Linked DNA regions of Homo sapiens: region 2 is linked to region 1. Evidence: fine-mapped expression QTL. A gene starts in region 1. The other region holds a variant in brackets. All regions are shown on one strand. Distances are from middle to middle.

The links. PIP is the estimated chance that this variant, and not a neighbour inherited with it, causes the effect. A credible set is the group of variants that fine-mapping cannot tell apart.
Region 2: its variant is the best candidate, but not a certain one, in a credible set for the expression of MMD in cerebral cortex (GTEx, PIP 0.63).

What each region holds. Positions count from the first base shown.
Region 1 is chr17:55,419,461-55,423,460 of GRCh38, reverse strand. It overlaps MMD (monocyte to macrophage differentiation associated), which reads left to right and starts at 1,626. Exons shown (of 7, transcript NM_012329.3): 1 at 1,626-1,791. The coding sequence starts at 1,766. RefSeq lists a silencer at 1,226-1,685.
Region 2 is chr17:55,391,168-55,395,695 of GRCh38, reverse strand. It overlaps MMD (monocyte to macrophage differentiation associated), which reads left to right. Exons shown (of 7, transcript NM_012329.3): 7 at 1,162-3,074. The coding sequence ends at 1,362. Among named protein-coding and RNA genes, the nearest start is that of MMD, 28 kb to the left of the region's middle. The variant A/T (reference allele first, on the strand shown) is at 1,866.

The DNA.
Region 1 (4,000 bases):
GTTTTGTTTTGTTTGTTTTGTTTTAGAGAAGTGTATTGCTTTAAAACAGGGAGAGATAGTCTGACGTACTGAAAGGAGGTGGGTCTTTAAAGTTAGCGAAAGGTAGGTAGGAGCCTTACTTTTGCCTTTGGCAAGTTTATTGACCACTATAAGCCTCAGCCTTATCTGTAAAATAAGTTGGATAATGCCCATCTGGAGGAGCTCTTGGGAAGATTGAAGCATGGAAAGCACCTCTCTGGAAGGTTCAAGGAAAGGGAACTAGAATTATGGGTGACAGAATTCCCTGGCTTTCCAATGCTTTACTGTAGGTCGAATGAGCACTCCTAGCAGGCTGGCCTCATGCCACTTCAGAGTCTCTAGCCTGCAGGCTGGGGGCTGGGTATGGACACGATACCTGGAAGGGAACACATATAACTTCCATCAGTGATCCTGGAAAGGCTCGACAAATCACCCATTCATTCATTCTGTGTGTATGTGTGTGTGTGTGAGAGAGAGAGAGAGAGACAGAGTCTCACTCTGTCACCCAGGCTGGAATGCAGTGGTGCAATCTCGGCTCACTGCAACCTCTATCTCCCAAGTTCAAGTGATTCTCCCATCTCAGCCCCCCGAGTAGCTGGGATTACAGGAGCCCGCCACCACTCCCGGCTAATTTTTGTATTTTTAGTAGAGACAAGGTTTCACCAAGTTGGCCAGGCTGGTCTCGAACTCCTGACCTCAGGTGATCCGCCCACCTTGGCTTCCCAAAGTGCTGGGATTACAGGCATGAACCACAGCACCTGGCCCATTCATTCATTTTTATTTGAACTTCTCTTCCAGGAAGCCCTCTGAGTTTAGGTTTAGCGACAGGACCCTGATTCAAGTCAACTCGTTTATTTGAAAGCTGCCTGGATAAAAATAAAATAAAATAAAAAATAAACTGGAGGATAACATAAAAGGATCCTTGCAGAGGATTCCTCCTTTTGTGGATCTCACTGAATCTCAGAGTTAGAAGACGCTCAGAGATCTCAACTCCCTCAAGGGTCAGACAAGGACAGGTTTTTCATTCTGCCCTGGATCCTCTCACAATAGCCTCGCGGGAGCTGGCCCTCAAAATGATGAAGGAATAAATGAAAGGAGGGATGGAGAAATTAATGATGAAGAAAAAATGAATGAGGTAGGGCTGCTTGTTTGCTGCTATTTTCTTCACAATGCTTTTAAGATTTCCTGGTCCATCTCCTCCTTCACCACTTCTCTCCCTCCCTCGATCTCTTCTCCAACTTGTCTCTTACAGAAGGGCGCCGCGTTCCCGCGCTCCTCCCCTTCCCCTCGCCCCGCCCCTCCCCAGCGAGGCCCCGCCTCGCTGCCCGAGCCCGGCGGGAATGAATGGCAGCGTAGCCGCCGCGCCGCTCGGGGTGCCGATTGGCTGACCGGCGCGCTGACGCGCCGGCGACCGCGGGTGCACGCAGGCGAACAGAGCCGGCGGGGGCGGAGCCGGGCTCCGGGGCGGGGCGCAGGAGCCCCGGGGCGGAGGAGCCGGGGAGGCGGGAGGCGGGAGGCGGGAGGTGTTGGGGCCGTTGAAGCGGCCTCCCTCCCGCCCCCAGCCGCCCGGTCTGGCCCCAGCCCTGTCCCGACCCCCGGCCTGGCCCACTCCGACCCTACCCGGCCGAAGGGTTCCGCTGGACACGCAGGCGGCCTCCGGAGCAGCCCAAGCCCATGAGGGCCGCGCGCCCGGCCGCCGGTGCTGACGAGACGGAGCTCCTGGCCCCCGAGGAGGAGCAGAGGATCAATGCGGTTCAAGAATCGATTCCAGCGGTGAGAGGGATGGCGTCCCGGTCCCGCTGCCCGTGTCAGAAGCGGGTTCCCAAATCCCGCCGTTAAGCGCACGGCTCCCGGCTCCTCACCTGGATTCATCCTGGGTGGATCCCGCACCTTGGCCAGGGATCAGTTCCCTGGGGATTCCCCACCCTGCTGTCCCTGGGCGATCCCCTTCCTCCAAGGATGGGAGCTCCTGCCTCACCCGGGTCTCCCCTCGCGATCTGCGGACCTCAGATGGATTCCCGGCCCCGGGACTCCAAGCCTGTCCTCCTTCCCGGGGATCCCTTTGCTCCTGGGGCTCACCCTCCCGACCCCCATACAGGCTGGGCTCTGGCTCTCTCTGGGAACCCGAACCCCAGCCCCGGGCACCGCCCCCGAGTCCTCCGACCTGGCTTTGGCCTCCATCCCTTTACCTCCAGGGTGGGGGTCTCCCGGGGCGCGCGGAACGGGGTGGCGCCCTGCGGAGAGATTTGTCGTAAAGCGGGGTGCTAGGCATTTTGGGTGCTTTGTGAACGGCCCTAGCAACAGGGAAACTGAGGCACGCTCCGCCAGCTTAGCCCTGCCTGGCCGTGTAGGGGCCTTGCTGGTTCTCCAGCTGAACGTCCCAGGGCGGTGCTATTTTTGGGCTCTGCGAAGGGGCATGTTAGCTTTCGGGTGGCGAGACCTGCTGTGGAGGCGCCGGTGTTAGGAAACGAGGAGGAGGAACCGTGGAGGCGCCACCGGAAGGCTGGCCGACTGCTCATTCACTGTAGAGCTGGTGGAAATGCCGGGCTGGGGGGCGCCGTGGCCTTACTCCCCTCTGGGGCTCCACCGTCTAACAATGGATGGAGGTTAGCCCATGACTCTGAGAGGAACTCCGGGCTTTTCTTTTCTGTTTAAGTGGGTGAAAGTTCACCTCTCCAGGGCATATGGTAACTGCATCCCTTTGTGTGAATTCCCGGACCTTCACCACCAGCATGTTTGCTGGGGGTGCAGTGACAGGGGAAATTTTAAGAAATGCATGAAATCTTCCAAGAAGGTTGTTGAGTTTTTAGACACTACCTTTTATTTCAGAATTTTAAAGTACACATTTTTTTTTTCTTTCCAATCTCCATGCCCTCACTGCCCTCTCACCCATCTCATTCCTCCCCCAGTCCCAAAGGGTAAAGGAGGCAACAAATGCACAGAAGAGTTGCCATGGTCTGGGCCACCAGGAAGGGGATCAGCTTGAAGACTTGGATTGACTTCTGAATATATTGCTTATCAGTCAGGGTGTTGAATGCTTGGCACTGTTCCCCCAGTGGAACTTCATACCGGTGTGTCTAAGGGCAAAATGGAACCGTAGTGTTCTGACTTTAGAACCTGATGTCAGAAATGAAGACCGGAGGGGCTTTTAGAGAGAATGTAACATGCACTCCAGTCATGATCAGTGAAGCCCTGTGCATGCGGTTTGATTTGGTTTTACTTCTCTACACGTCTGTGCTCTTCCTGTTTTCAGAGAACAGTGGCAATATTCTGTGAAATTGCCCCTTCCTTGTTTGATTAAGAGTTTGTCATTCTTACCTATACCTTTGGATCCTCTAAAAAGAAAAAAAACAAACAAACCCTGTTCAATTATTTGTTGCACAAACGTTAAAACTGTTAAAACAACAACAACAACAACTTCATTTAGGATGCTACCCTCTCAGCTTATTGAACTGACTTTTTAATTATTTTTGCTGGACACTGATCTCTCCATTCCTTATTAGCACAGTTGTAATGTGATTTTTGCGCTATTATTCACTTAAAAACTAAAAATACAGGTATTTTCTTTTGGTGTGGCATAGACTGTAATTTTCTTGGGGGCTTGTGTGTTTCTCAATGGATATTTAACAGTTTCTTTCTTGATGACATCTAGATCTACCCTGATTTTCTTTGAAGATTTGTGTGATCTCATAATTTCTTGGTTTTCTATCATAAGCTAGGTTGGAAACATAGTTCTAAGCATCAATTTTAACTTGGAAATAAAGCCTATAAACAAAAAGTAATGTAATGAGAATGTCCTGATTTTTGTGGTTCACACATTAAAATGCTGAGAGTAGTACTATTCTGCATCTTTTAATGCTGTGTTCATGATATATCTTTCTGAGCATTCCCAGGTAGGTAAATTGCAAAGGAACTGGAGGGAGAGACACACTGTCTTTGAAGGGAGACATGCTTCCTCCCTCCTGATAGATTTATTGGGACT
Region 2 (4,528 bases), 28 kb after region 1:
ATTTGGATTGGCTCCTTCCCCATCTTTTGATCCCACACAAAACATGGGGGCTTCTGTGAACTTTGAAAAAGGACTGAAGCTCACAGCTGGCCCTAGATCCTCACACCTGGTCCTTAGCTCATGATGGTCTATTGTTGCCTTGCTTTTAGCCGAGGGCCTTGGGGCCCATTCTAATCAGGTGCCTGAGTTAGAGCTTCCCTTTACTCTTGCGGGGCACACAAGGCTGCTGCCCAGTGCCCAGGCCTCTAGGACACCCACACACCTATCCCCTTCCAAGGCCCTGCCGTGATCTGCCTTAGGTTTCCATTCACTCTGCAGAACCTGTCTCCTTTCTATTCCTAGTCCTCAGAAATCCAGGGGACTAACTTGTTTCTTCATCAGCTTCTAAGCATTGCCTCTATTCTCTCTCCTCATTCATACAAGCCATTTTAATCTTGTAGATGGGCCTTGGTCTTTGAAAACCAAGAACAGCCTAAAAAATTCTCCCTTCTGCCCTAAGACACACAAGAATATTAACTTATTGCTAAGCTAAGCAATGGCCAGGCTCGAATACAAAAAGGCCTGGAGACATCTAGAAGGCTAGGAAATATCTTGTACTATGTGATCTGTGATTTCAGAGGTCACTTCTAGTTACGGTTTTCCTGTGTCAGCCTTAAGGAATCTATAAGCTCACATAAGCAGGGGAAGTCTCAAAGCAGCAATCAGTGTAGAACAGTGTTTGAGAAGGACAAAGGGAAGTAAATACCCTGCCTGAGATGTAAATTATAAATAGAGTGGCTTGGGCCTGCCTTAGTAGGGAAGGAAGCATTTAAAGGGGAAGATGAGAACAGAGGATTGCACTTTATTAAAATGAACTCCCATGTCTGGCTATGATTGCAGTTTGCTTAAATATGCTGTAAATGAGCAGAATGTTCTGCTTTTTCATTTGGGACCTGTAATGTGATTGCTTGCTCAACTCAAGAGTGTCAGTCCAAAGGGCAATCCAGGTCGATGTATAAGAGACTTTTTTTATGTTTGGTTCATGTTTACAGATCAGGATTGTGTTCACACAGCTTCTTCATTGTCTAGAAAATCAAGAGCCTTAGAGAGAATTACAGTTATCTGTAGCTTGCCATGCAGAGTAACATCAAACCCTTTTTATTTTTTTTTCTCTGTTGACAGAACAACACCGATGGACTTCAGGAACTTGCCTGTGGGGGCTTAATTTATTGCTTGGGAGTTGTGTTCTTCAAGAGTGATGGCATCATTCCATTTGCCCACGCCATCTGGCACCTGTTTGTGGCCACGGCAGCTGCAGTGCATTACTACGCCATTTGGAAATACCTTTACCGAAGTCCTACGGACTTTATGCGGCATTTATGACCAATCTGTACTAATTCTCCAAACCAGTATTATTTCAATTATGGCACTTGGGAGTGGGGTGAGAGCTAAACATTGCACAGGGAAAGAAAAAAAATAACTGCACTGACTTTATATCTTTTGAATATAATTACTGTGAAAGTATAAAGGCTGTGTTCTGGAATTTTCTGCCTCACAGCAAATAAATAAGGTAGTGAATTAATTATTCATTCCATTCCACTATCATGAAGGACTCTGAATAGACTTGGCCAACTGATGTTTACAAACCAGACTTTTATATTTTAATTTTACAGATTTTACTACATGATTTTTCTAAATTACTATGTCAGGTTGTAAAAGTCAGTGCAATAACAAACCTTCCTTTTTAAGAAGAAAATTGTTTCTATTACTTTCCCATTCACTAGGTAAAGAATCATGGACAGAACTTACACTACTTTTTACCATGTTTCATCTTGGCATAACATGGTTCTTTTTTAAATAGAAACTTTAGTTTTTTGTAAATTTTT[A/T]AAAAAATATTTCATTGATATGCATCTCTGCAGGTCCTCATTCATGTTGTAAATTTTTGCAGCAAGCAGTCAACATTCCACAAACGAACAAACATTATACCTCTTCTGATAGTTTTATTAAGCATGGAGAAATTGCCAATTTTTAAAAACTGCAGTTTTCCAAACTTTTCTGCCAACCTCTTACTCTGAATTCAGTGCTGCTTTGGGACATATACTTGACCTAGCTTGGTTTACCAGTGATGGAAAAGTATTTTGATATCATTAACTTTTTCAAAAGATCCAACTTTTTCTCTATGCCTTTGCCACATTCTCTTCAGGGTCTCTTTCCACAGTGGATAAATGTTTTTTCTGTATTATGACAGTATTGTTGTGATGGCCATCTGCTGGAAACTCCTGAAGAGCATTATGTATTACAGTGAGCAGTTGTATTGCCTGTTTGGTGCCCAATGGTTAAGTCATTGTCACTTAGCTTTATATTGTCAGTTTGATATTTATTTTAAATTGTGGAACTAGATGCATAAATTCACATTTCTGCCTTTCCTTTGCATCTTCTCATATATTGTGTTTTTTTTTTTTTTTCCTAGAAAAAATATTTAAAGCATTGTTTGACAGGTAGAAACTCATGTATCTGTAGTCCATGAGTTATATCCTGGCTCAGTGGAGTGATATTTATGTATTATTTTTACTTTTCTCTCAGTGTCTTATATTAAGATTAACATGTTGTTAATAGTTGCTTTGTTGATTAATCTCTCTTGTTGGTGTTTTAATAAATGAAATAGGCTTGCCTTTAGATCGGGTGCTGATATTGCCTGTTTCCTAGTAATGGGCTGATCAAATGATCAGTGGAATTCTTGGTTTGATGATAACCTTATTAATTGAAATTTTTTACTGATGTGGCTTTAAAAGAGGTTTATTTTGTATATGTTTAGAACTCTCTGATTTTGATGAATTATATGGGAATGAGAAACAGAAGAAGTGGTATTTGCTGGCGAGTTAAATAGGCAAGGTACCCAGTGATAACACCAACCAAACCACTCCTATCTGCATGATTCTGAACATCTGGATGCCTGTTGTTTTACTGTGTATATTTTATTTTTAATATATTAACTTTGTGGATTCATTTAAGGTCTACTCAAAAGTAACACTGTCAAAACCACTAATATGTATGTAAAAATTGTGCTGTATACTACAATAAAGTTGTTACTTGGATTTGTTCCACTGTCTCTAAATTAGATGACTGTGAAGAAAAATGAATACACCCTGTCACTTAGAACTTTCTAGTCTACTTTTTAATAATTGAAATGCCAGAGTCAGCTCAAACATTAATCAACAGACATTTTCAGTTTAAAATACACTAGTCAGGACCTAATGATTTCAAGTTTTTTAGATGATGCATCCTTACCAAGGTAAGCCTTTTGGTTTAGCATATTTAATATTCTATAGGACTGAGGTGACAGTCTTTTATGTTACCAACCAGACAAGTAGCAGATTATAAATCTTAACAACTCTCCTAGTGTTAGATGCCATTCTACCTCTTCTGTAGTGTGGGAAACCAGGGCCAGAGAAGTTCAACTGCTTCATCCTAAATCAGGGAGCTGGAACAGCAACCAGCTCTATCTGATTCCGAAGCCTCCCATTGACTATACCACTGCATTTCTAGAGTCAGCAGAAACAAATAAAAAAACTTGAACTAAAAATTCATCAGGCATGGACACAGAAAAGAAAACACTATTCACATGGTTTAGAACCTCAATAATCCCTCAGATAACTCTCTGTCAAATCTAATTTTGAAGATTGAGTGTCTTGAAGCGTTATGATTCCCAAGAGTTCTGTCCTTTAGGTCACCAGTGTGACCTCATCCATTTCTAGAGTGTCCCCACTATTGTGCTGTCAGCTTCTTGGTCAGTATCTTCAGCCTTAAACTATTTTCTAAGGACTAGACCTCTCTCTAGTCAACTGCCTAAATGCTCCCAGACATATTGACTCAAACCGTCCCAAACTGATTTCATTATCTTTCCTCATCCTACCACCAAACCTATTTTCTGAAATTTCCTAACTTAGTTAATGGCATGGCCACAGCCATCTGTTCATTCATGCATCCTTGATTTCTTGCACCCCCCAGATGCAACAGGTCAGCCAGAACTGTCACCCCTGCCTTTCTCACAACTCCCTGGTCTGGTTCCTCACCTCTCTTCACACTGCAGGGTCCTAAAAAGACCTACTTAGCACTCATCAGACTACAGCAGCCACCTCCTCATTTGTATCCCTGCCACTGCTTACACCCCTCAAATGAGCTCATCCTCCACACTGTACCAGCATTATCTTCCCAAAATAAAATCTGAGCATGTGTCTCGATGCTCCAAAACTTCCACTGACTATTATCCTATAAGATTCACGCCAGATGCTTTAGCATGGACTCTTCACATGCTGACTCCGCCTGATCGGCCCTCTCCCCAGCTGAACCCCACTTGACATCAGCCCTGCTAGTGATTTTCACAGCCTCCCCCACAACACACATGCCCTCATGGTGCTTTTGCAGCTGTGTTTTTGTACCTGCTGTTCCTTGGCCTGGAATGCCCTTACTCCAGCCCCTTTCCTACCTGGCAAATAGTTGCTTATTCCAAGCCTTCATCAGGTGCCACCCATCTCCCTTGTGCCATTGA